5 separate regions of the Homo sapiens genome follow, and all the other regions are linked to region 5. Evidence: fine-mapped expression QTL. A gene starts in region 5. Each other region holds a variant in brackets. All regions are shown on one strand. Distances are between the middles of the regions.

Region 1 (5,104 bases), 190 kb after region 5:
TGTTCCAAATATAGTCAATCCCTTCTGCAACAGCTATGGAAATATCTGTCTCTTCTTACAGCCTGCCTCTTCCCCTGGGCAGGACCTGGCACTGTATTGGACTGGGGGATAGGACAATGGCCTGCTTCTACCAGAATGACATCTCTGCTCCACAAGCAGGCACCCATGAGGGACACTGTAGTTCCTGATTTTGGCTTGCTCCTCCCATTGTGGAGCCTCCACCCTACCAGTGAGCTGGGGTGGGGTGGTTGGGGCCCCAGTACTCTTGGCCTGCCATGCCTGGTGCAGAACCTCCACCTTAGAAGTGGGGACTGGGCGGGGCAGGGAGCCTCAGTTCTCTAGGCCTCATCTGCCCAGAAAGAAGAGACCTCCTGCAACCTGGAGCTGGGAGGGACATGCCTGCTTGTCCCAGGGTGAAACTGTAGCCCAGGACTGGGAGCTGGGGTAGAGAGAACCTCCATTTGTGGTTGCACCCACTGGAGTACAGGCTCTACAGCCAGAGGTAGGGTGTGGAGTGGGAACAGGTTGTGGCTCAAATGTCACAGATTCTCACTATTCTTCCCGAGATGTGGTAGATTTTCTTGAATAACCTTCTTCATTTGATGTGTGCCCTTAGGATGAGCTTCTCATACCACCATCCCAGAAGTCTGTACCCCCTTGTTGAGTTTCTTTTCTTTTCTTTCAACAGAGTCTCACTTTGTCACCCAGGCTAGAGTGCAGTGGCACGATCTTGGCTCACTGCAACCTCTGCCTCTTTGGTTCAAGCGATTCTCATACCTCAGCTTCCCGAGTAGGTGGGACCACAGGTGCACGCCTCCTTGTCTGGCTAATTTTTGTATTTTTAGTAGAGACAGGGTTTCACCTTGTTGGGTCTTTCTATTGAGGTTATACTTAGTTGATTTTTGATTGTGAGCTGCTTGTTTTCCTTGGGAAGTTAATTATGGCAGCTTTCTGAGGGCTGCAATGATGGTGCCTCCTTCTGAGAGGGTTTGGGTTTATTTGCTCCTGCGGGGGCCTGTCCATGATGATCAGTTTAAACTTGGGGTTTCCCTGGGTCCATCCAGGTCATGTGAATTTGGGCTGTGAATCCACAAGAAGGTCAGCCTTGCTTATGACTTCTCAGAGAGGGGTCCCCCTCCCTGCTCAGTGCCAGGTCCCATTCCTCCTACTTGGCCGAGGGTGAAGAGTTATTTCTGGTTCACCTACCTCTGAATGTCAGTTTATGGGGCCTTTCATTAGACTTCTCATCTTGGCCTTTATCCACCCCCAGTTTTCCAGGCTGGGAAGATGCCTCCAGGGCAACAAATCCATGGCCCTCTGGGTTCCACTCCATCTAGTCTTTAGCTTGATAATTTCTTGCCATCTTGTCAGCTCCTTGATGATTTTATGAATGTATGGTTTATATTTTATCCAGGCTTTCAGTTGTTTTCAGTAGAAAGTTTGTCCAGACGTCTGCCATATGACTGGACATGGAAGTGTGTCCGCTTATCTTCTCTACAAGGATATAGTGAGGCTTGTATAAGCCTTTTACAAAATCCACACTATAGCTGCAAGCGGTGTCCATCAGAAGCTGTGGGTGGTGCCCAGGTGTCAGGACCCTGGGCTATTGTCCAGGCTGCCGCTAACAAACTGGGATTTTGGGTGAAAAATGTGGCCTCTCTAATATTGCTTTTGTGGAAGGAAGGACACATGCCTTGAGGTGCCTGTGGGGACCAAGTGGGCTTCTCCCTATGAAGGTCCCAGCTGTGTCTGTGGACAGCTGAGCAGGAGGTGGTGGGCAGTGGTTTTTACGTCCAAGTTTCCCAGTGCCCAGTGAGCCCTGATGGGCTTTGGGAAGTGGAGGAAACCCCAGCATGGAGCTGACTGCCCACTGGGGAAAGCTGTAGCTTTCCCTGTAGCCTCTGTAGGCTTCTGCCACTTCTGATAGTGTGGGGAGGACTGCAAGGAGCAGGGCTGATCATCCAGGGCACCTGCTTTCCCTTGGGGACTGTCAGCAGCTTTGCCCACAGCTCACACTGCTTCAACTGCTACCATCCTGGGGT[C/T]CTCACATTCATGGCGCAAATGCTGCTGTGGACCTCCTGACACCAGGCCTGAGCTGGGAGGAGGGCAGACACATATAGCAGAGCCTCGACAGCAGGGGAGCAGTGGGGCCCAGTTGCCAAGGAGAGGGGTGAGGTGGGGGTGTTGGTGGGGGCTGTGGATTTCCTCCTAGGGAGATGGGAGTGGGCACTCCCAGCTGAGGAAATGGACAAGGCCCAGTGAGAGCAGACAGGATGGGGAGCACCGTGCTTTGGCTGGAGGAGTGAGCCAGGAGGGTCTTGGGTACCGTGGGTGAAGACAGCAGGCCCGGCATGCACAGATGACTACCCCAAAGCTGTGTGACCCTGGGAGACACTTAACCTTTCTGGGCATCAGCCTCTCCATCTGTGTAGTGGGTGTTATAGTGCCCTTGGGGTCTGCTGTGATGTCTGGGACAGATGACAGGGGCCTAAGGGCCAGGGAAAGTACAGGCTGGGTCCTCAGGGACCTCCTGACTCCCATGGCCTCAGCAAGCCCTCATGTGTGCGGCTGGCCACTGTCCCCACACTGGCTGCTGTTCTTGGTCCATCTCTGGGCCATTGACTGGTATTTGCTGAAGCCATGTTGCTTTGGGCACCTGGACCCATCTTGCTCCACGCTCCTTCTGCTACCCGGGCAGCTCAAGTCCTCTTAGGTGATCCCGATGGGGCCTGTGCATTTTTTATCCCCCTATAGCCACTGCACCATCCCTTTCAGTGGTCCTGATGCAGCCCTGGTCATGTCCCCTTCCCGCCACTGACATCGGAGCTCAGGTCTCCTTCTGACTGTGGCTGCCTGTATGCGCAGCCCCTATATGGCCTGTGCATCTTGGTGAGACTTCCTGACACTCTGTCCTGGGTTCTGCCCCATCTATTATATGCTCTATCTTCAGTCACTCCCCTAGTTGGACTGAGATCCCTGTGTCTTCCTCTTGCCCCCTGGAACCCAGATGGCAGGTCCTGAAGACAGGAACCAGACCCTCTCCCTCTCCCCTTGTCCAAGGATCCAACACAGTCCGCAACACATGATAGCGGTGGTCCAGGATGTTTTGCTAAATCTTTGGATAAATTTCACTGGGTTGACAGTGGGTACTGAGCCACCATCTCCATGTGCAGACCCTGTGGGACCATGTGGGGGACCTGTGCTACATGCAGGGATGGGACAGACACAGAATGAGCACATGGCCTTTCTGTGAAGAGAGGTGAGCACCCCAGAGGCTCACTCAGGGGTTGGGGCCCTAAGTGGGATGTGTGGCCTTTCAGAGAATCCAGGCCTGCAGCTGTGCTGATGAGACAAGCGAACGTGGGGGTCAGGGACATTCCAGGTGCTGGAAACCATGCAGAGTGGCCAGAAGGCCCTGAAACACCTGTTCTGGGAGAGCCAGTCACTGACCCTGTGTCCAGGGGCCATGGTGGTGACTTCACCCAGCCTGTGTCCTTGCCATCTGCTTACACATGGCAGCAGGCTGACCACTGAGCCACAGCCTGTGTGCTTCCCATCTCCAGGGTTCTCTGGGGCCTCAAGATGCCCTGGGTCCTGGGGAAGCTTGCATGGACAGAAGGGGAGATGTGAGTGCCTACACAGGCTTCTCAGACCACCTGCTGGGACCTGCAAGTCCTCTGTCCAACTTTACCAGCTGTGACCCCCAGGGGCCCTTCTCAGTGCTGTCAGCCTGGATTCTGAGGTATAGGTTTGGGCAGTCACGAAGGGAAGAAGGTGCCTTGAGTCTGGGAACCCACGACCCTGAACAGCTGGCAAGCCCTTTTGTGTTCTCCTCTGTGGGGTTCCAGCTAACACCTGTCCTCTGTATGTGCTCCAGGTGTTCTGCTGCAGGTGGGGGTGGGCTGAGCATGACAGTTCCCTTAACCCTGGGATCTGGACCCCTCCAGCCTTCCTTTGGCCTTAGACAAGCCACTCCCTTTTGCTGGCATCAGACGCTTGTTCAACCAAGGGGCTTCCAGGGTCTTCCCTAATGTTAGCATTAAGCAGGCTATGACTCTTGAGGAGTGTCTGGGGCGCTGTGTTCTGGTGGAGCAGGTCCCTGCACCAGAAAGTGGTCCTGTCTAAACCTGCCATTTCCATATTAAAGTGACTTATTCAGCACTTGCTCAGTGCCCAGGGTGAGCCACACATGGAAGAAGATCAGACTCTGAAATGCTCACTGCTTTCTCTATCATTCAGCCAAGACTTATTGAGGGAATGAATGAATGATACGTTCCTGGAGGTGGCACTGAGCATTTCAGACTAAGTTAGCCAGCTCAACCTCCTTGTGAGGTGGGGCCTGTATCCCTCATCTTGCGGATGGGGAAACTGAGGTTGAGCTGGTAACCAGTGAAGTGTGGGTGTGAGCCAGGTCTGTCCCATGTCAATCTGGAACCATTTTCTTATCTGCTTCTTCATGGTATTTCCTCTAGCCCAGCACCAGCCGCCGGAACACAGATGACAGGGCTGTGTACACACATGCTCATGTATGCATACACATATGCACTAAGATATAGATGGCAGGGCTGTGTACCTACACACACACACACACACACACACACACCAAGACACAGACAGCAGGGCTGTGCGTGCACACACACACACACACCCGAGACACATATGCCTGGGGTCTCTCTTGAGTATATGATGAGCACCAAAGCAGAGGTCAGGTGAGGGAAGTTTAGGAGCAGGGAGGTCCTGTCGTCTGGAAATGGGATGACCGTGGAGACAGGCCCTGAAGGACAGGGGGCATTGCTCAGTGGGAGGGAGGATGTTCCCCATGGGGAAATGTGTGGAGCAAAGGCATGAGGAGGAAGGGGAGGGGATGTTTTGGTGGGCAGAGGTTGGGAAGGGCAGTGGGGAAATCCTGGGACAAGCAGCTTGTGTCAGACCCTGAGAAAGTCCAAAGGACTCATTCCCATTGCTGGGAACATGAGTCCCTGCAGTGGCCTCAGCCCCTGGTTTCCCAGAATTGGAGGGGGTCTTTGACCGGGAGGGGTTGGTCTTTACTGGCCTGGAGCCCTCCTCTGCCGCCCCTGCAGGCAGTGGGATGGTCCCCAGGTCT
Region 2 (5,104 bases), 32 kb after region 5:
CCTTTGGCAGAGCCTGAAAGGTAGGCACTTCAGAGGAGGAGGGGTTGGAACAGGAATTTGTGCTGAATGGGTTTGTGCTGACCAAGTATATACATATTCAACAGGTTATAGGAGGAGTTATGAATATTCATGGAGGGGGTCCTGATGCATGTGTACTGAACAGACATGCAATTTATTTTATTTTATTTATTTTTTTTGAGACAGTTTCACTCTTGTTGCCCAGGCTGGAGTGCAATGGCGCGATCTTGGCTCACTGCAACCTCTGCCTCCCGGGTTCAAGCGATTCTCCTGTCTCAGCCTCCTGAGTAGCTGGGATTACTGGCGCATGCCACCAGGCCTGGCTAATTTTTGTATTTTTAGTAGAGACGGGGTTTCATTATATTGGTCAGGCTGGTCTTGAACTCCTGACCTCAGGTGATCCACCCGCCTCAGCCTCCCAAAGTGCTGGATTACAGGCATGAGCCACTGTGCCTGGCCCAAACATGCATCTTTTTTTTTTGAGATGGAGTCTTGCTCTGTTGCCCAGGCTGGAGTGCAGTGGCGCGATCCTGGCTCACTGCAACCTCCGCCTCCCAGGTTCAAGCGATTCTCCTGCCTCAGCCTCCCAAGTAGCTGGGATTACAGGCGCCTACCACCACGCCTGGCTAATTTTTGTATTTTTGGTAGAGACAGGGTTTCACCATGTTGACCAGGCTGATCTCTAACTCCTGGCCTCAAGTGATCTGACTGTCTCGGCCTTCCAAAGTGCTAGGATTACAGGCGTGAGCCACCTCGCTTGGCTAATTTTTTTTGTATTTTTAGGAGCGACAGGGTTTCACCATGTTAGCCAGGATGGTCTCGATCTCCTGACCTCGTGATCCACCTGCCTCGGCCTCCCAAAGTGCTGAGATTACAGGCGTGAGCCACTGCATCTGGCCCAAACATTCATTTTTAAAAGAACTTTTAGGTTCAGGGGTACATGTGCAGGTTTGTTATATAGGTAAACATCTGTCATGGGGATTTGGTGTATAGATTATTTCATCACCCAGGTACTAAGCGTAGTATCTGACAGTTATTTTTTCCAGACAGGCATGTTCTTTGCATTCCATGTTCACTTTGAGGTGGAGACAACATTATATTCAGGCCCCATACCTCAAAAGGTGAAGCAAGGAGACAGGGCACTCAAGTGCACAGCCTCTATAAACTGGCTAGAACCAGTCTGTGGCTGGTGGTCTTCTTGTCAGGAGAGAGTTACTGAAGTCAGTCTCTTATACAGTCACAGCTATAGTTTTGGCTTGTGGAACAGGAGGTCAGTTGGCATCTGGTGGTGAGTTGCAGTTGTTTTCCTATTGCTTATCCAGGACAGTGCTTGTTTGGCTGCTAGAGAAAAAGAAGAACCCTGTGGCAGTTAGAACAGAGTTGATCTTGAAGAGTCAGACTGTGTGGCTGAATCCTTACCTGGCACGGTCGTAGGTCTTGTTTATAATTTGGTGTCTTTTTTTCCCCATGATCTTCATGAACGCATGTAATTTGGTATTTTATTGCCACAGAGTCCATTCTGTCAGTTTTGTGGTCTCTATTTTAACATTAATGCTGGTCAGTTGTGCCTGAACTACAAAAGGGAGGGAATATAATGAGGTGCGTCCCAAGGCATCTTGTCATGGCTGGAACCAAAACAGGCTTTGTTCAGTCAGTTGGAGTGCTTAGGATTTTATTTTTAGTTCTTAGCCTGAAGACCTTGCTTAGAATTTTTCATGGTGTAGGTCTGACACATTGTTTCACCTTTTATTATCTGAAAATACCTTCATTTCATCTTCATTTTTGAAGGATAGTTTTACAGCAGCAGTCCCCAACCTTTTTGACACCAGGGACCGGTTTCGTGGCAGACAGTTTTTCCATAGACCAAAGTGGGGAAAAGGTTTTGGGATGAAACTTCCATATCAGATCATCAGGCATTAGATTCTCTAAGGAGTGCGTAACCTAGATCCCTCCAACACACAGTTCAGGGTTTGTACTCTTATGAGAATCTAATGCAGCCACTGATCTCACAGGAGGCGGGGCTCAGGTGGTAATGCTTGCTGGCCCTCCACTCACCTCCTGCTGTGTGCGGCCTGGCTCCTAACAGGCCACGGACCCAGACCAGTCTGTGGCCTGGGGGCTGGGGACCTCTGTTTTACAGGATATAGAATTCTAGGTTGACTGTTTTCTTTCAGCATTTTTTATTATTTATTTATTTATTTATTTTGAGATAGAGTCTCGCTTTGTCACCCAGGCTGGAGTGCAGTGGCGTGATCTTGCTCACTGCAACCTCCACCTCCTGGGTTCAAGTGATTCTTTTGCCTTAGCCTCCTGGGTAGCTGTGATTATAGGCACATACCACCACGCCCAGCTAATTTTTTTTTGTATTTTTAGCAGAGATGGGGTTTCACCATGTTGATGGGGCTGGTCTTCAACTCCTGACCTCCAGTGATCTGCCTGCCTGAGCCTCCCAAGGCGTGAGCCACCATGCCCAGCTTCTTTTGGCATTTTAAAGATGAAGACTCATTATCTTCTGGCATCCATTTTTTCTCTTGAGAAGTTACCTGTCATTTTTGTTGTACTGAATGTCTTTTATTTGACAGTTTTAAGAATTTCTTTTTTTTTTTTTTGAGATGGAGTCTTACTCTGTCGCCAGGCTGGAGTGCAGTAGCGCAATCTCAGCTTACTGCAACCTCTGCCTCCCAGATTCAAGTGATTCTCCTGCATCAGCCTCCCAAGTAGCTGGGATTACAGGCATGCACCACCATGCCAGGCTAATTTTTGTATTTTTAATAGAAATGTGGTTTTGCCATGTTGACCAGGCTGGTCTCGAACTCCTGACCTCAGATGATCTGCCTGCCTCGGCCTCCCAAAGTGTTGGGATTATAGGCGTGAGCCACTGCGCCTGGC[CT/C]TTTTTTTTTTTTTTTTTTTTTGAGACAGGGTCTCACTCTGTTGGCCAGGCTGGAGTGCTGTGGCGTGATCTCGGCTCACTGCAACCTTGCAACCTCCGCCTCCCGGGTTCAAGTGATTCTCCTGCCTCAGCCTCCTGAGTAGCCGGGACTACAGGCATGCACCACTGTGCCCGGCTAATGAAAAAAGTTTTTTAAATATAGATGGAATCTCAGTATGTTGCTCAGGCTGGTCTTGAACTCCTGGCCTCAAGCCATCCTCCTGCTTCCGCCTCCTGGGATTACAGGAATGAGCCACCGCACCTGGCTGGGTTTTATACTTTGGTTTGGTAGATCAGTTTTGATCTTTGTCCTTACTCTTAGGGTAAATTTCTTAGTCCTGGAATGTATGTTTTACTCCTAAGATGTGGCCTTTGTGGGGTTTCAAATGGATAGTCTCAAGTGTTTAAGGTACTGATTAAGCCCCTTTAACTTGGCAGGACTTGGACTCCAAACTCTTATCTACCCTGCAGCTAGGGAGAGCTAAAATCTCAGCTTTTTTTTTGAGACGGATCTTGCTCTGTTACCCAGGTTAGAGTGCAATGGTGTGATCATAGTTTACTGTGACCTTAAACTTCTGGGCTCAAGCAATTCTCCTACCTTAGCCTCCCAAGTAGGTAGGACTACAGGCATGCACTATCTGGCTAATTTTTATTTTTGTAGAAATGGGGTCTCACTATGTTGCCCAGGCTGGTTTCAAACTCCTGAACTCAAGTGATCTTCCTGCCTTGGCCGCCCAAAGTGCTGGGATTATAGGCATGAGCTCCCGCACCCAGCCATCAGCTTGCTCCTTCAACCTTCAAGCTATCGTGTCCTTTCTGGGCTTGTGGGAGTCTCACCTCCGCTTACGCAGTTCAGGGTTCAGCCAAAGATTTGAGGGGACCTTATACTCAGACTTTGGGTTCCTTTTTTAGTGGGTTCCTCCTTTCCTATATTTCCCTCTCAATTTCCAGCTTCTTTAGCAGTCTCAAATCCTCCTTTAACCTGTCAGGCCAATAAAATTGCAGCTTTTTTTTCTCTGCTCCACTCCTCTGAGACTGGGGCATACTCTCAGGAGTAAAGCAATATAAAAGTGGATCTTGCCCAGTGATGTTCCCTTCTTTCAAGGGTCATATAAATTCCAAGCTTCTTTTTTATTTCTTGTTTGTCTCCAGTGTCTTTAGAAGATTGTTTTTCACATTTTATCTAGAGTTCATAATCTCGGTCTGTGAGAAAGTTATTTTGATACAGTCTACTTCTCTCTTAAGGGAATAAGAACTTCTTTGGGTTTATTTTTTCTTGACAGTGTGTTTTGGAGCTCTTTCATTATAGATATATAGTTTCTTTATTCTTCTTTAGGGTGGAATGGCATTTTTATCTGTGGGCTACTGTATTTAAACAGCAGCCCTCCTATGGACTTTTAGGTTGTCATTTTGCTTAAAAAATAATGAAGCAATTAATTTTCTAACCTGTCATGTATGTAATGCATCTGTAGGATTAATTCCCGAAAATGCACTTGCTGGGAAACATAAGTGCATTTGTAATTTTAGTAGATGTTAACAAATTGTTTTGTATGGTAGAACCAAGGTTTATTCTTTTTTTCTTTACCCACCTCTCAAGAGAACAGTTTTTATTAGGTGAAAGTGGTATTTGCTAAAAATTTTGAGTATTTTCCAAAATGAACTTGTTAAGTTTTCTTACTAAAAAATACATTTGTATCTCAGAAGAAAGTAGCAAAATATATTATATGAAAAAAATCACACCCACTAGAAACAACTGTTATTAGTCTTTCACGTTGCTTTCCTGTTTGTGTATGCTTTTCTGTGTTAGCAGTAATAATACAGTCTTATTACCTTGGTATTTATTTCAAACACTTGCTTAGTGCCCACTGTGTAAAGAGCTTTCTGGGGAGCTGTCACTGCCTGCCTGAATCTCCCTCACTGTCTGAGGGTGGTCTTAGTGCTCATGAGGTCGAGAATATCGAGTGCTGTGTCAGAAGGGCAGAGGTCAGGTGGATTTAAAGCTGTTGCACCAAAGCCAGGTGTGGCGACATGCCTGTAGTCCCAGCCTACTCATGAGGCTGAGGTGGGAGGATGGCTTGAGCCTAGGAGTTAGAGAATGCAGTGAGCCATGATTGTGCCACTGCACTGCAGCCTGGGTAATAGAGCAAGACCCTGTCT
Region 3 (5,104 bases), 140 kb before region 5:
ATAGCGTATCACTAGAGATTGAAAAATATCTGAAAAACTAGAATTGGCCGTGCGCGGTGGCTCACGCCTGTAATCCCAGCACTTTGTCAGGCCGAGGGGGGCGGATCACAAGGTCAAGAGATCGAGACCATCCTGGCCAACATGGTGAAACCCAATCTCTACTAAAAATACAAAAAATTAGCAGGGCGTGGTGGCGCACGCCTGTAGCTATTCGGGAGGCTGAGGCAGGAGCATCGCTTGAACCCGGGAGGCGGAGGTTGCAGTGAGTGAAGATCGCCCATTGCACTCCAGCCTGGCAACAGAGTGAGACTCCGTCTCAAAAAAAAAAACCACAAAAAACCACAAAAAACAAACAACAAAAAACCAAAAAAAAAAAAAACCACAAAAAACTAGAATCATGAAAATCATCTGTTTGAGCAAATCCTTTTACAGATTAGATGTAAGCTGTACCTCAGTTTGATAAAGTACTATAAAGTACTTTACAATAACAATAAACTATACGTGAGACGTTGGAAGCAATTATCCCTAAAGTCTATTCCAGCTCTAAGATTTGGGTTTTTTACAATAACAATAAACTATACGTTAGACGTTGGAAGCAATTATCCCTAAAGTCTATTCCAGCTCTAAGATTTGGGTATTTTACAATAACCAAACATTGTCCTCTCGACTGGCCAATCTGTTTACAGTTAGGTGTTATGTCTATTCAATACCATATCTGTCACATCAAGCACAAGACAAATCATCTAATACTATCTGCAGTATGATAAATGACAGCTTGGTGCTAACTTTTAAGCAGGTAGCTCCCGTTGAAGTAACCTTTCAACAGAATGCTTAAAGCACGAATACCGGCAAAAATAAGATTCCATAACAGTCTTATTATTTTTACACAATCTTTGATGCAACTCAGAGCGTATCCTTTAGCACCTTCTCTTTTCCCCTCAACTTTAAAATGGGGCTGAAGTTCTATTCACTTTCATTTTTTTAAAGCCACACTCTTCTTATCTAGATCTGAATTTCAGAATGAAAAGATGAATACTTTAAGACTGAAAATCCATAGCAAGGGCAAAGGAAAGTACTGTTGTATAATGAAAACCGCAAACTGCAAGGGGCTCAGAAGATAACGGGCGTTCATTTCTAACCTGTGCAATCACCTAGAACAAATCGTGTGGTTCTGGTCTATAAAACCATTCTTTGTCGCTCAAAAGACCACAAATACAAGCACCCTTTCGCAGAAACCCTCAAACTGACTGCCAGGGAGATTACGTAACCAAACATCGCCAAAGACTTATCTAACTTGTACAGCGGCAGCCTGTTTGACCTCATTCATACAGAGAAGCGATCACATTAAGATCCAGCACTTGTTTCTACATTTCCAAGCCGGATTCTGCCGTCCTCCTCCTTCTAAGACGGGCGGTGCAGCGTCACAAGCGTCGGGACAGATCTATCCGGCTCGGAACAGACTTCGCGCTCTACCCGGCCAGGCCCAGCTCTCACCCGGGGACCCGTGTCGGGCTCCGCAGCTGGGACATGGCGCCCCCCGGCGGGCGGCGAGGGGCTCGGCCGGACGAAGCCCAGACACCCGCAAACTCCCGACTCCACAGGTAGCGGCGCCGACGCCAGGGCCTCCGCGCTCTGCTCTCCCAGGCCCCGTGCCCCCGGCCCACCCGGCCGCCCTTACCATGTTCTCGGCGCCGACTCCGCCTCCGCTCGGCCGCGCGCCCTCCCGCTGCCGACCCGCGCCGCCGCCGCCGCTCTCGCAGCACCGACCGCCGCCGCCGGAGCCGGACAATACCCCGTGCCCGCCTCGCGCTGCTGTGGCCAATGCCCGCTTGTCTTGCTGGTTCGAACCCCAGCGGCTGTTCAATCGCGCGCCTCCTTCTAGCCAGACCCCGCCCCCCCGGCACCGCCTTCCTAACGGCTGTTTGTTTTTGCACACGGCACGCGGAGG[C/CG]GGGGCCTCCAGCCCCAATAGTGACGCGCTCTCTGCCTTTCACCAGGCGCCCAAGCCTGACGAACAGAAAGGCAAACCAATGAGATTGGACGCCTCGCAGACGAAAGCCAATAAAAATATCGCCCGCGAGCAAGGGAGGCGGGCCACTGGGAAGGACAGCAAAATTAGCTAATAAGGTGAAGCGATTGCAGGCGCTGTGGCTTTCCCGCCCATTCGCGGCGTTGGTTTTCCCGCTTCTGAGACTTGTTTGGGGAGGTAAAGAGTGTTGGACGTGCTTCTCCTGGTGGGTTTTCACAGACTGTGAGGATTTATTCGTCTTAGAACGTGTGGATCAGGAGGGCGCTGGGTTTCAAGGTTAGGCAGGCCTCATGCTCAGCCGTATTCTGGCGGACTGACTACCCTGACGTCCTCTCAGCGCGGACCCTGACAAGGTCCGCGGCAGGCTGAGGCGGGAGAATCGCTTGAACCCCGGAGGCGGAGGTTGCAGTGAGCCGAGATCGCGCCACTGCACTCCAGCTGGGCGACGCATCGTCTCAAAACAAACAAACAAAAACAAAAGCTATCAATTGGCTACATATTGTTATTTGTATGACAAATTCTTTTTCCTTTTTTAGAGATGGAGTCCTGGGACTACAGGCGCGCGCCCCAATGCCCAGCTAACTTTTGTATTTTTAATAGAGACGGGGTTTCTCCGTGTTGGTCAGGCTGGTCTCGAACTCCTGACCTCAGGTGATCTGCCCCCCTTTGCCTCCCAAAGTACTGGGATTACAGGCGTGAGCCACCGCGCCCGGCATGTATTACAAATTCTAAGAACACGAAGATAATGGGGCCGGCTTGGTGGCGCGAACCTGTAGCCTCACCTACTGTCAAGACTGAGACAGGAGGATCTCTTGAGCCCAGGAGGTCGAGGCTGCAGTGAGTCATGATCGCACCACTGCACTCCAGCTTGGGAGACAGAATATACCCTGTCTAAAAAATAATAATAAAAAAAAAGGTAATGGATGAGGCCGATAGTCAGGAATGAAATGACTTTAAACAATTGGGTATGCATGGGATTGGGTATGTGTGTATGTGGGGGCAGAGGGTGGGCATAACCGAAGTCCCATACTCATGTCCCTCTAGGCCTAATACATTTTGCAGACCTCACAGAGCTCAGACTGTTGTGAGCCGTTTTTCTTTTCTCAACCTCTTCAGTGTGTTTATTTTGCTTACATCATTAGGTTAAAATTTGGAGGATAACTCCCAGCTAGAAAGGAAGAAAAGCTCTAAAGTGGAATCGCCTTCCCCCGGAAGCTGTTGTAAAAATTAAAGGATGTATGTGAGTGCACAGGCTCTCCAGCGATCGTTTTTCTTCCACAGTGTTAACACAATTTATTTATTTATTTACTTTTTGAGATGAAGTCTCACTCTGTTGCCCAGGCTGGATGGAGTGCAGTGGTGTGATCTGGGCTCACTGCAACCTCCGCCTCCTGAGTTCAAGCGATTCTCCTGCCTCAGCCTCCTGGGTAGCTGGGACTAAAGGCTCCCACCACCATTCCCCGCTAGTTTTTGTATTTTTAGTAGAAATAGGGTTTCACCATGTTGGCCAGGCTGGTCTTGAACTCCTGACCTCAAGTGATCCTCTCGCCTCAGCCTCCTAAAGTGCTGGGATTACAGGCGTGAGCCACCGCGCCTGGCCTGTTTCCACAATTAAAAAAGGCCCATCACCCTATCATGATCATCTCTATTACAGTCTGGACAATATGAGCTTTCTGGGAGAGCCAGCTTCATTTCATAACTGAAGAAATGGGCTTAGGTGAACTTAGTCATTTGCCTGAGACCGCATAGCCTGTAGATAACCAAGATACCAGCTCACATTTGTTCCAACTCATTCCAGCTTTAAATTCTTTCATTCTTTTCACAGTATGATGCATTGACTGTGCTAGAATGTGTTCTTGGTGTTGGTGAGTTAATAGTGAAAAAAACAAGTTTCTGCCTTAGTGGAGATTCTGTTGTCATAGGATTTTCCCAGGCTGGCACTTTAGAAATTTATATCCAGGCTGATGATAGCTGTTCCAAAGTTTGAATCAGGAGAAGCAACTTTGGGGAAGTGAGTCTTTAAAAAAAGGTAACTTAAATTCAAGAAGAGGAAGAGGGTGAGCTTCTAAGTAAGAATTTGGAAAAATACGGATGAAGGTACAGACAAGTGTGAGGAAGGGTGTCCAGTGAAATAGGAAGGAATGGAGCAATGTGCCCAGATTAATAGAAGCCTCAAAACTAGGTAGAAGAGTGGAGTTACTTCAGTAAAAATAGCCATTGTTAATTCCTGCTCCTCTGTGTTTCTGGCCTCAGTGGATGGCATTACCAATCTACCAAGGCATAAGCCTGTGAGTTATTCCTTTAACAAATCACTCAGTGCCTACTGTTTGCAGGCACTGTGCTAGGTACTGAGGATTTGGTGATTAGCAAAATAGACATTGTCCTTGCCCTTGTGGTCCTCTGCAGCGGGAGTCAGATGTTAAAGAAATAAACAAATACCATATGTGAATTATAATAAGTTCAAGTGTGCTGAAGGAAAAGAACAGGGTGCTTTAAGAGAGAAACAGGGAATGTAGTTTAGCTGGTGTGGGTGGTCCACAAAGAGCATGCAGGCTGGGCGTGGTGGCTCACTCCTGTAATCCCAGCAATTTGGGAGGCCAAGGTGGGTGGATCATCTGAGGTCAGGAGTTCGAGACCAGCCTGGCCAACATGGCAAAACCCTGTCTCTACTAAAAATGCAAAAATTAGCCAGGCGTGGTGGCGCATGCCTGTTATTCCCAGCTACTCAGGAGGCTGACGCAGGAAAATCACCTGGGCCCAGGAGAGCCTGGGAAGCGGAGGCTGCAGTGAGCTAAGATTGCGCCACTGCACTTCAGCCTGGGCGACAGAGCAAGACTCCACTCCATCTCAAAAAAAAAAAAAAAAAGAAGAGTTGCCCTTGTGAAGGGGGGCTGAAAGAAGTGTCCAATAATGTATGAGAAAGCACCTAGCACTGTACCTAGCACATAATATCCAATAAATGTTAACTTCCTTCCTTAACAGGAAAATCATTTTCTCACCACTCTCTACCCCTCAGCCTTCATGTCATTGATTCAGATTTTGATGAAAGTGGAGTTAGGTTGAAAAAGACTGGTTCTC
Region 4 (5,104 bases), 130 kb after region 5:
AACATGGCGAAACCCCGTCTCTACTAAAAATACAAAAAAATTAGCCGGGCGTGGTAGGGCGCACCTGTAGTCCCAGCTACTAGGGAGGCTGAGGCATGAGAATCGCTTGAATCCGGGAGGTGGAGGTTGCAGTGAGCAGCGATCTTGCCACTGCACTCAGCCTGGTTGACAGAGCAAGACTCTGTCGCAAAAAACAAAACAAAAAACATAAAAATAAATAATTACGTTTGTTTGTGTTTGTAAACTAAAAATAAAATTGTAAGCCCCCCAAGCACTGAACGGACCTCCTCTTAGCCAAGGAGACCCCAGAGAAACCTTAAAAACTGAGTTCCCAGCCATTCTGGAAAGGGAGGTTGAACACCCCTTGTTAAAGTAGAGATCATAAGACTAACAGACTTTGTGGTAGTAAGATACCAAATTATAAACAAGACCTAAGGCCGTGCAAGGCAAGGGTTAAGTCAAGCTTGCAGACCATCAATCTTGCTGAAGAGGTCTTTTTTGACCCAGTGTATTGTGGCTGATTCTGGCATACTATCTTAAACATTCTTTTCTGCTGACTCCAAATTTTACACAGAGCCTCACTCTTTTAACCAGTTGCAAATTAAAAAATCTCTTGGTCAAGCTGGCTGAGGTGGGAGGATCACTTGAGGCCAAGAGTTCAAGACTAGCCTGGGCAACATAGGGAGACCCTATCTACCCCTACCAAGAGATCTATCTATCTATCTATCAATCAATCATATATCGTGTATATATCTATGTATTTGAGTCCACATATAACTTGTAAACCCCCCACATCAAGACATCCTGTCTTTTGGAGCCAAACCAGTGTATACCTTCCACACATTGATTTATGTCTTTGCCTGTAACCCCTGGCTCCCTGAAATGTATAAAACCAAACTATAATCTGACTGCCTCGGGAACACTTAAGGCTTTTTGGGTTTGTATTTTCCTGGGGCTGTGGTCACTCATTGGCCCTGAATAAACCTCTTTAAGTAATTTACAGAGTTTGATTTTTCTGTTAACAGTTAATTAAGATTCCATGTATTTATCACAAATTCTACTCCAAATCCTTCACAAGTTGTCTGTCAAAAGACAATATTACAACAGATTTATAGATCTGTTAAAAGAAAAGCTTTAGACAAACTAATGGAGTTTTGTTGAGGAAAGAACCTTGAAAACATGCTAAGGGAAAGAAGTTAGACACATGAGGCCACATATTGTATAGTTCCATTTATATTTGCAATGTCCAGAGTAGGTGAATTGATAGAGTCACCTATGTGATGTTGAGGTGGGGAGAATAGGGAGTGACTTCTGATGGGTTTGAGGTTTCTTTTTGAGATGGTAAAAGTGTCCTGGAATTGGATAATAGGGATGGTTGCACAACACTGAGTATACTAAAAGCCACCTGTGACTTAAGAAATATATATGTGGTCTCTGCATAGAGCTTCTAAAACCCTTGTAACTTTTTTCTTTAGGTTTTCATTAAGGCATTTTATAAAGATAATATCATTTGTATTTATAAAATGTTTGCTACATATACATAATATATATAGTGTATATATAAATTTAAATATGCTCAAGTTACAAAGCAGAATTATGAAAAGAAACCCGTGAACCCATTACTCCACTTAAGAAATAGAATATTACCAATATTGTTGCAATTTTCTGAGAGTTTCCTCTTCTTTCTTATCCCTCCACCCCAGCTAATTGCTATCCTGATGTTTTTCATTTGTGTATGTGTATTTTAATTTAATTTAAAGTTCCAGGATACATGTGCAGGACGTGCAGGTTTGTTATATAGGTAAACGTGTGCCGTGGTGGTTTGCTGCACCTATCAACTCATCACCTAGGTATTAAGCCCTGCATGCATTGGCTACTTATCCTGGTGCTCTCCCTTCCCCCTGTCCCATGGACAGACCCCAGTGTGTGTTGTACCCCTCCCTGTGTCCATGTGTTCTCATTGTTCAGCTCCCACCTATAAGTGAGAACATGCAGTGTTTGGTTTTCTGTTCCTGTGTTAGTTTGCCAAGGATAATGGCTTTCAGCGCCATCTGTGTCCCTGCAAAGGACATGATCTCATTCCTTTTTATGGTTGCATAGTAGTCCATGGTGTATATGTACCACATTTTCTTTATCCAGGCTATCATTGATGGGCATTTGTAAAACACTTGTAACTTCTTGAATGATAGTGACATCTTTTGTTATTCATCATAAGCCCCTTTTAACCATACCTGAGTTTATGCCACTAATGAAGTGGCTTTTGGAAGATGGGAGCTGGTTATCAGAGAAACCAACCATGTGATTAGAGGGCTGAAACTTTTAGCCCCACCTCTCAACCTCCAGAGAGAGGAGAGAGGCTGGAGATTGATTTGATTACAGTTTATCTAAAAGAAGAAACGGAGGCAAAATTAATAAAAGTGGAGAGTTTACATTTGAACCAAAATGAAGACAGCTGCCCAGAAGACTCACATGCAAGTAACCTGGGATATGAGCTTCATTAAGCCTTTGTTACAAGCAGGTTTTTAAAGGTAAAAAAGGGGACTAGGCATGGGGCAGATAAAAAGTTGTTTGTCAGGAATTCTCATTGGTTTACAGAAATAACATTGATTAGTGATGGCTATACATTGTTGAATGATAGGGTATGAGTTATGTTGTGCAGCATGCAGTATTGTTAGGTTAATTTATAGCTACTTGGGGGGCAGTCAGTCTAGAGTCCACATAGCAAGCAGCTTCAAAAGATGATTATTCAGCAAGAGGGAGGAAGTGAGATGTGACTGCTGTCTCTTTCTCATGCCTTTTTTTGGGCCTGATAATTTAGAGGAAGCTCATATTCCTCATATAAAAACATTTCTTTTGACTGTCATTACTAATGGCCAATGATTTTATCAATTATACCTAGGTAATGAAACTTCATAAAAACTTATTAAACAATGGGGTTCAGAGAGCTTCCAAGTTGGTGAATGCATCCACATGCTGGGAAGGTGTCACCTCCCAAACCCCATGGGAACAGAAGCTCTGATGCTTGAGATTCTTCCAGAAGTGTTGTGATTAGAGGAACAGTTTCCTTTGGAACCTGGCCCTAAGACTTTTTTTTTTTTTTTTTTTGAGATGGAGATTCGCTCTGTCGCCCAGGCTGGAGTGCAGTGGCGC[T/G]ATCTCGGCTCACTGCAAGCTCCGCTTCCTGGGTTCATGCCGTTCTCCTGCCTCAGCCTCCCGAGTAGCTGGGACTATAGGCACACGCCACCATGCCCGGCTAATTTTTTGTATTTTTAGTAGAGACAGGGTTTCACCGTGGTAGCCAGGATGGTCTTGATCTCCTCATCTCGTGATCCGCCCGCCTCGGCCTCCCAAAGTGCTGGGATTACAGGTGTGAGCCACCGTGCCTGGCCCCTAAGACCCTTTTAATCTAGATGTTCATCTGTATCCTTTAAAATATGCTTTGTAATAAACTAGTAAACATAGATGTTATGATCTGATTGTGTCCCTCCGAAATGTGTATGTTCAAGTCTAATCTGCAAAGTGTTGATATTAAGAGGTGGGGCCTTTGGGAGGTAATTAGGTCAAGAGGATGGAGCCCTCGTGAATGGAATTAGTGCCCTTATAAAAGAGGCCCGAGGGAGCATGTTTGTCCCTTTCTCCTTCTGCCATGTGAGGACACAGTAAGAAGTTACCTTCTATGAGGGAGAGAGCCCTTACCAGACACTGAAGCTGCTGGTGTCTTGATCTTGGACTTCCCAATCTCCAGAACTGTGAGCAATACATTTCTAGGGTTTATAAATTACTCAGTCTATGGTATTTTGTTCCAGCAGCCCAGATGGAATAAGGCAGTAGATAAAATGTTTCTCTGACTTCTGTGAGCTCTTATAGCAAATTACTAAACCTGAAGAGCAGGTCATGGGAAACCTTGCTTTGTAGCCAAGTCAAACAGAAGTGTGGATAGTCTGGGACCCACTACTTGTGACTGGCACCTGAAGTGAGGGCAGTGTTGTGGGACTGAGCCCTTAACCTGTGAGGTCTGTGCTAACTCTAAGTAGTTAGCGTCTGTTGTGGTTTGAATACTTGACCCCTCCAAAACACATGTTGAAACTTCTCCACTTGCCATGCTGGTTTTAGCATAGAAAGTCTCATGTCTTGGGAAGCTCCCCTACCCTTCCTCGCCTCAAGTCCCAGGCAAACTGGGATGCTTGACCACCCTGTTTCTGTCTGCTCCTGTCTATTCACCTTCCCTCCAGTTGGAATCAAACCACAGTTGATATGAGCTCTGGAGTGCAGAAGCTGATACAGCACCTGAGGCTGCCTTCTGACTGGCATCTGGAAACTTGGCTGGCAAACAGTTTCTTATACTGATAATAACTTCCTATAAAGGGCAGGGGTCTTCCCTGCACCTAAACTGTTTGTACAACAACATGGCTCATGCTAAGCACCTGCCTTTCTTCTGGGAGTTTGGAATTTTGGTGTATGCTAGGCAGACACCAGCTCCTGATAAAAACCCTGAGCACCAAGTCTCTATGAGCTTCCCTGGTAGACAGCATTGTACACGTGTCATCACAACTAATTGTTGAGGGAATCCAGTAGTGACTCCCTCTTGTTTCTGCTGGAAGAGAACTCTTGGAAGCTCATGCCTGGTTTCTTCCAACTTCACCTCATGTACCTTTCCCCTTTGCAGATTTTGCTCTGTATCCTTTTCTTTAAGTCTTAGCCAAGGGTATGACTGTGTACTGAGTCCTGTGAGTTCCTCTGGAGAGTCACAGAACCTTGGGGTGGTCTTGGGGACCCCTGACAAACCTGTTGAGGGACTTTCTCAGAGAAGGGCCCTTCTTCAGGGCCTGATGGAATCGATGTCTCTTCAGATTCCTGCATAAGAGGAGGAATCAGACCCAAAGGCTAGTCTAAGGTCAGCCTGGCTCCCTGCTCTGGCCATACACAGCCTGTTCTACCCTGCTATCTATGTGGCAAACTGAGGCCCAGGGAGGGCAGGACTTGCCTAAGGACACATGGAGAGTGAGTGTCCAGGTCTTCTGCCACCAGCCCCAGGCCTCCCCCTGCTTCTGTGCCTGCCCGGGGCTCTGTCCCAGCTGGACTCAGAGTGGTGGGTCTTTTGCACCCC
Region 5 (5,104 bases):
GGTCGCCTCCCAGTTTCATGGACACTGGTAGAAAATACAAAATTCCTCGATTAGGGACAAGGGACCACTGATTATTCAAAACAATAGCAATAGCCAGAGCATCAGCATTTTCCACCACCCTCCCAAGCCCCAGTTCCCATAGGGGAGTCAGAGGCACCTGCATGAGCCATTGGACTACTACAAGAAAGGAGCGCAGGACTCTACCCTTTCACAACGCACAGCAAGAATGCCTGCCCTCTGCTCTGGAAGAAGGTACTAACCTCTTACCTTCCAAGGTGGTAGAACATGCTTGAAAAGATAGTAAGTGAAAAGGGGTAGCCAGTGCTTTACTCACAAGACTGCTTGAACATGAGACTCAAGGAGGGACCTCAGCAGGCCTGGGGTGTTCAGCAACTATTCCTGGCCTGAAAAGACAGAATCAGCTGAAAGCCTCTACCTTTAAGAGAGGTGACCCCACCACCCAGAGGAACACAGGAGCTGTGCTGCTCGTGCTATGCTCAAGCCAGCAACACTCTTCTCATCCCAGCCAGTCCTTTAACACACCTAACACCAAGACAAGAACTTGAAGGCATCCATCTCCTTCCCATCCAAACTTCCCACCGGCTTCTATATTCCACTCAGGATGCAGGGTTAGAGAGGCCTGGCATCAAACCCTGATCTGCTGGTTTGTGGCTGGGCAACCCTGGACACATAATTCTGACCTTGGGCCCCTCATCTGTACTGAACTTAAAAACGACCTCATGATGATACCTCAAAGATTTAAAACAATTAAGAGGTCTGGCGCAAAATAGGTGTTCAACATTAGCACCTTCCTCTTCCATGAGTTTTTCCTTTAAGATGAGCACACATTGACCTCACCCTCCACTAGCTCCTGGGGCACTCAGCTCCTCTGCAGAACTGAGACTTTGGTTCTCTTTGCTTTGCCTTGTAAATATCCTATTCCATGAGTCTCTCAGGGCAGGACTCTTCCCTGTTATTCCTCTTCACTGTTTCAACTCCTACCCTTACCACCACTCTTGGCTTCATCCTCAACTTTTATAAGACTTTTGCTTTAAGTGTATAATAAAATAAAATTTGTACTGAGCCTGGAGCACAGCAAACACTCAGGATTCCCTTCACCTTTCACACCAGCATTGTCCAAAACAACTTCCACAGCGACAGAAATGCCCTCTAATCTGTGCGGTCCAATATGGTAGCCACTGGCCACCTGTGGCTACTGATCATCTGAAATGTGGCTAGTGTGAAAATGAAATAAAACTCCAAATTTAATTTAATCATGTGTGCCAAGTGGCTACCACATTAGATGGCACGGATCTATACAAGGCCCAGGACACTAGATCCAGGAGGGAGGAAGTCATTGTCTGAAATTTCTATAACCTTGCTCTGGATGGAGCAGGGCAAGGCCTCAAACCGTTTCAAAACTGTTCTAGCAAGCACTGAAGGAATGCATAGGGTCACCGCAGACCCAAGCACGCTGGAGGCTTGCTACCCTCATTCACCCAAATCCCCCACACTCAAGGAATCTGGCAGTCCACTCTCACTAAGCACCAGTCCCTGCTGGGGGCTGTGGGAAGAGACCAGAGTTCAATTAGGCACCTGAGCTTGGTTCCAGGAGCCCAGAGCTACTAATGACTCTCAGGGAAAGATCCTTTCTGGCTGAGGAAGAAGGGAAGGTGTCTTGGAAGAGATAACCTTATTAAATTATTAAATAGATCAGACAACACGAACTAAACTTCCACATTATTCTATGACACTACAATTCTAGCATGGCTTTTCACTGTGACCAGAAACATCCTTATCATCATGTAGTTAATATAAATACTGCCTTTTCCCCTTCATTTTTTTCTCATGTATCTTACGGCTCAGAAATCACTTCTGAAGGAGTAAGTAGACCAGGCACATGAAGTAGATTTCATTTTCCCCATGAAATAATGGTTCAGAGAAAACGCAGGCCTAGTTCCAGGAAGGCAGAGTTGGGGTCTCTGCAACGTGATTTACCGGGGCATCTTGCAAAGGAGTTGCTGTGACAGTAAGCTCTTCCACTTTGAGACCGTCACCTCAGCCACGGCTCCCACCTAGAAGGGAACAAATGCAGTTAGCTCCAAACGCAGTTAGCTTCAGCTTGTGCCTCTGAACCATTATCCAGCTCTAGCTCCTTGCAACGCCTGGCCCACTCTACAGCCTCTCTTGCGGCAGGTCTACACGCCACCCCATGCCTTCCGGTGAGGTCCCTCCTGACCACACGTCCCATCCCACCTACTGGGGTCCACCCAGGTCATGCAGAAGCCCCACTTCTCGGCTGAAAGAGAAGCACGAGGTTACTCATCAAGTAATCCCCGAGTCTCCTCCGGGTAAAATGTTCCGAACGCGCTCAACCGCCTCTTGAGAGGAAGTAGCACGTGTAGTGAAGGCTTGGTCTCCAAGAATCACTGGTGCCCCCACTCACTGCGGCCCAGCCTCCCACGCCGCCCGCCACTGAACCCAATCCCCCAGGACCCCTACCTGGGCTCAGGAATGGTCAGGCAACACGTGGGGCCCAGGATGGCGGTGGATGACTAGACTGCCGAAGACCGCGCCGCTGCGACTACGAAGTACGGAGTACGGAGTACAGGTCTGCCAGCCAAGACTGACGCCGCGCGCTGCGCCGCGCACCTCGACGTCACCGCGTAGTCCCGCCCCGAAGCCGTGCGTGGCCGGGGCCACAGCGTTTGGGGTAGATGACGTCACGCGGCCGCGGGCGCTCGCTTGGTAGGGTGTGCTGGGGCGTAGAGTTTAGGGTCCTGAGGCTGCGTCTGCGTGTCAACTCAGTGGAGTCTCTCGACCGCCCTTTGTTACCCTCCTTTAGTGACCAGAAGGCTGGAGTTACGTAATCTGCCCCTACAGCTAAAAGGACGGAGGCCTGACGGCGTGGCCTGGAGGGACGCGCTGAGCCCCTAATGGGTGGTGCCTTCCTGGTGCGGCCGCACAGGCGGGGCCGGGCGGAATCCAAGCACGATGTGGACACGGAGCCTTGGGAATGAACAGGAGCCTGCCTGTGGGAGCATGTGGGAAAGGTGATGCAGGTGGAAGGGCAAATACAAATTATACATAGGGTTTAATTTTCCCTGAGGAAAAGAAGGGACGAGAAACCATCCCCCTCCCTTTTTCTTTCAAAATTTCAGCCTCTCTCCTTTCCAAATGTACTCAAGTCTTTTTCTTATATGGCCAGGTTCAACTCAGGAATGTTTCTTGGGAGCCATCTCCTTGAAGTGTAATTGTTGGCTGGGTGCGGTGGCTCACGCCTGCAATCCCAGCACTTTGGGAGGCTGAGGCGGGCGGATCACAAGATCAAGAGATCGAGACCATCCTGGCCAACATGGTGAAACTCTGTCCCTACTAAAAATACAAAAATTAGCTGGGCATGGTGAAGCGTGCCTGTAGTACCAGCTACTCGGGAGGCTGAGGCAGGAGAATCGCTTGAACCCGGGAGGCGGAGGTTGCAGTGAGCCGACATAGCACCACTGCACTCCAGCCTGGAGACAGAGCGAGACTCTGTCTCAAAAACAAAGAAAGAAAAAAATGCAATTGTTAAGGGACGAAAGGGCCAAGAGTCCAGCTTCTTAGGAGGACAAAGGCTTAACTTGGCACCTGACTCCAAATTGCAAAACCTACATAATGTGATGGGCTATCTCTACTTAGCTGCATAGAAAAAGTGAGTTTCTGTCTTTGTGTTGCCTTTAGCAGGTTGCATGTGATGTACGGCATCACAATCTGGTTTAATACTTATTCAGTAATGGTTTTCTGTCTCTTCTACCTTTGTGGAGAGGTTTCATGGGTTGGGAGGAAACTACTCTCCACCCCCCACCCACCCCCAGGCAGAGGAAAGCACATTGAAAGGTCCTGAAATTGGGAAGGACATGGTTTGCTGGTGATACAGCTAAGTATTACAAGTTTGTAGTGTTCTGGAAGGGTCTCAATGAGGAGCGGGAGATAAGGACGATGTGTTCAAGGGTCTTGAATGATCAGGCTAGAAAAGTGAGAACGTGGTTCTATAAGTAAAAGCAGAGCAGTGCTTGAAACTCGTATTTTATGTATTGCACCTAGTAAATACATTCAATCACTTTACAGTATACAAATCCCATACTTCACTAAGTGTCAAAACCCTAACAGACAGATAAGGCAGAACTGTTACTTCCAGATTACTAACGTGGAAACTAAGCCCCACCCAAACAAGTTAAGTGGTTTGTTCAAGACCTCCTACAACAGGCTGGGCGCGGTGGCTTATGCCTGTCATCCCAGCACTTTGGGAGGCCGAGGCGGGGAGGCGGGTGGATCACCTGAGGTCAGGAATTTGGGGCTAGCCTGACTGACATGGAGAAACCCGGTCTCTACTAAAAATACAAAATGAGCCGGGCGTGGTGGTGCCTGCCTGTAATCCCAGCTACTTGGGAGGCTGAGGCAGGAGAATTGCTTGAACCCAGGGGGCGGAGGTTGCGGTGAGCCGAGATCGCGCCATTGCACTCTAGCCTGGACAACAAGAGTGAAACTCCATCTCAAAAAAAAAAAAAAAAAAAAGGACCTCCTACAACAGCCAGGGCCTGGTGCAGGTTGTCCTAGCACAGGGTTCACTGGTCTGTCCATTCTGCCACTGCTATGAGATTGTAATGGCCCAACAGGTTCACCTTGCCTGCTGCCTAGGCAGAACCAATTTATCAAGACAGGTGAATTGCAATAGAGAAAGAATAATTCATGCAGAGCCAGCTGTGTGGGAAACTGGGACTTTTTTTATTACTCAAATGAGTCTCCCCAAGCATTTGGAGGTCACAGTTTTTAAGGATAATTTGGAGGGTGGGTGGCATCCAGTGAGTCAGGAGTGCTGATTGATCGGGTCAGAGATGAAATCATAGGGAATTGAAGCTGTCTTGTGCTTGAGTCAGTTCCTGGGTGGGGGCCACAAGATCTGATGAGCCAGTTTATCGATCTGGGTGGTGCCAGCTGATCCATCCAGTGCGAGGTCTGCAAAATATCTCAAGCACTGATCTTAGACTTCAGTGATGTTATTCCCGGGAGCAATTTGGGGAGGGTCAGAATCCTGTAGCCTCTAGCTGCATGACTCCTAAATCAT

Direction of the effects. Alleles are on the strand shown, and positions count from the first base shown. SD is a standard deviation of normalised expression in the study named. Not every link is listed here.
As copies of C replace T in region 1, the expression in fibroblasts of the gene that starts at base 2,674 in region 5 goes down (small effect, 0.36 SD a copy in GTEx).
For the expression in NK cells of the gene that starts at base 2,674 in region 5, CT is the low allele of the variant in region 2 and C is the other (small effect, 0.32 SD a copy in Gilchrist 2021).

The links.
Region 1: its variant is fine-mapped to the expression of SNHG15 in fibroblasts (GTEx, PIP 0.94).
Region 2: its variant is fine-mapped to the expression of SNHG15 in NK cells (Gilchrist 2021, PIP 0.90).
Region 3: its variant is fine-mapped to the expression of SNHG15 in whole blood (TOPMed, PIP above 0.99).
Region 4: its variant is fine-mapped to the expression of SNHG15 in monocytes (TOPMed, PIP above 0.99).

What each region holds. Positions count from the first base shown.
Region 1 is chr7:45,171,813-45,176,916 of GRCh38, forward strand. The region is part of intron 1 of RAMP3 (receptor activity modifying protein 3); the gene reads left to right. Among named protein-coding and RNA genes, the nearest start is that of RAMP3, 17 kb to the left of the region's middle. The variant C/T (reference allele first, on the strand shown) is at 2,043.
Region 2 is chr7:45,016,152-45,021,255 of GRCh38, forward strand. All of the region lies in intron 1 of CCM2 (CCM2 scaffold protein), which reads left to right. Among named protein-coding and RNA genes, the nearest start is that of CCM2, 19 kb to the left of the region's middle. The variant CT/C (reference allele first, on the strand shown) is at 2,908.
Region 3 is chr7:44,846,291-44,851,394 of GRCh38, forward strand. H2AZ2 (H2A.Z variant histone 2) reads right to left here and starts at 1,797. Exons shown (of 5, transcript NM_012412.5): 1 at 1,679-1,797. The coding sequence starts at 1,681. It overlaps H2AZ2-DT (H2AZ2 divergent transcript), which reads left to right and starts at 2,181. Exons shown (of 2, transcript NR_187581.1): 1 at 2,181-2,231; 2 at 3,169-3,275. RefSeq lists enhancers at 1,380-1,937, 1,938-2,496 and silencers at 1,423-1,812, 2,073-2,132. The variant C/CG (reference allele first, on the strand shown) is at 1,949.
Region 4 is chr7:45,112,363-45,117,466 of GRCh38, forward strand. No RefSeq gene overlaps it. Among named protein-coding and RNA genes, the nearest start is that of TBRG4, 3.2 kb to the left of the region's middle. The variant T/G (reference allele first, on the strand shown) is at 3,151.
Region 5 is chr7:44,984,023-44,989,126 of GRCh38, forward strand. SNHG15 (small nucleolar RNA host gene 15) reads right to left here and starts at 2,674. Exons shown (of 3, transcript NR_152597.1): 1 at 2,503-2,674; 2 at 1-24. It overlaps SNORA9 (small nucleolar RNA, H/ACA box 9), which reads right to left and starts at 1,488; the gene lies at 1,356-1,488. RefSeq lists a silencer at 1,066-1,246 and enhancers at 1,773-2,519, 2,365-2,484, 2,520-3,267.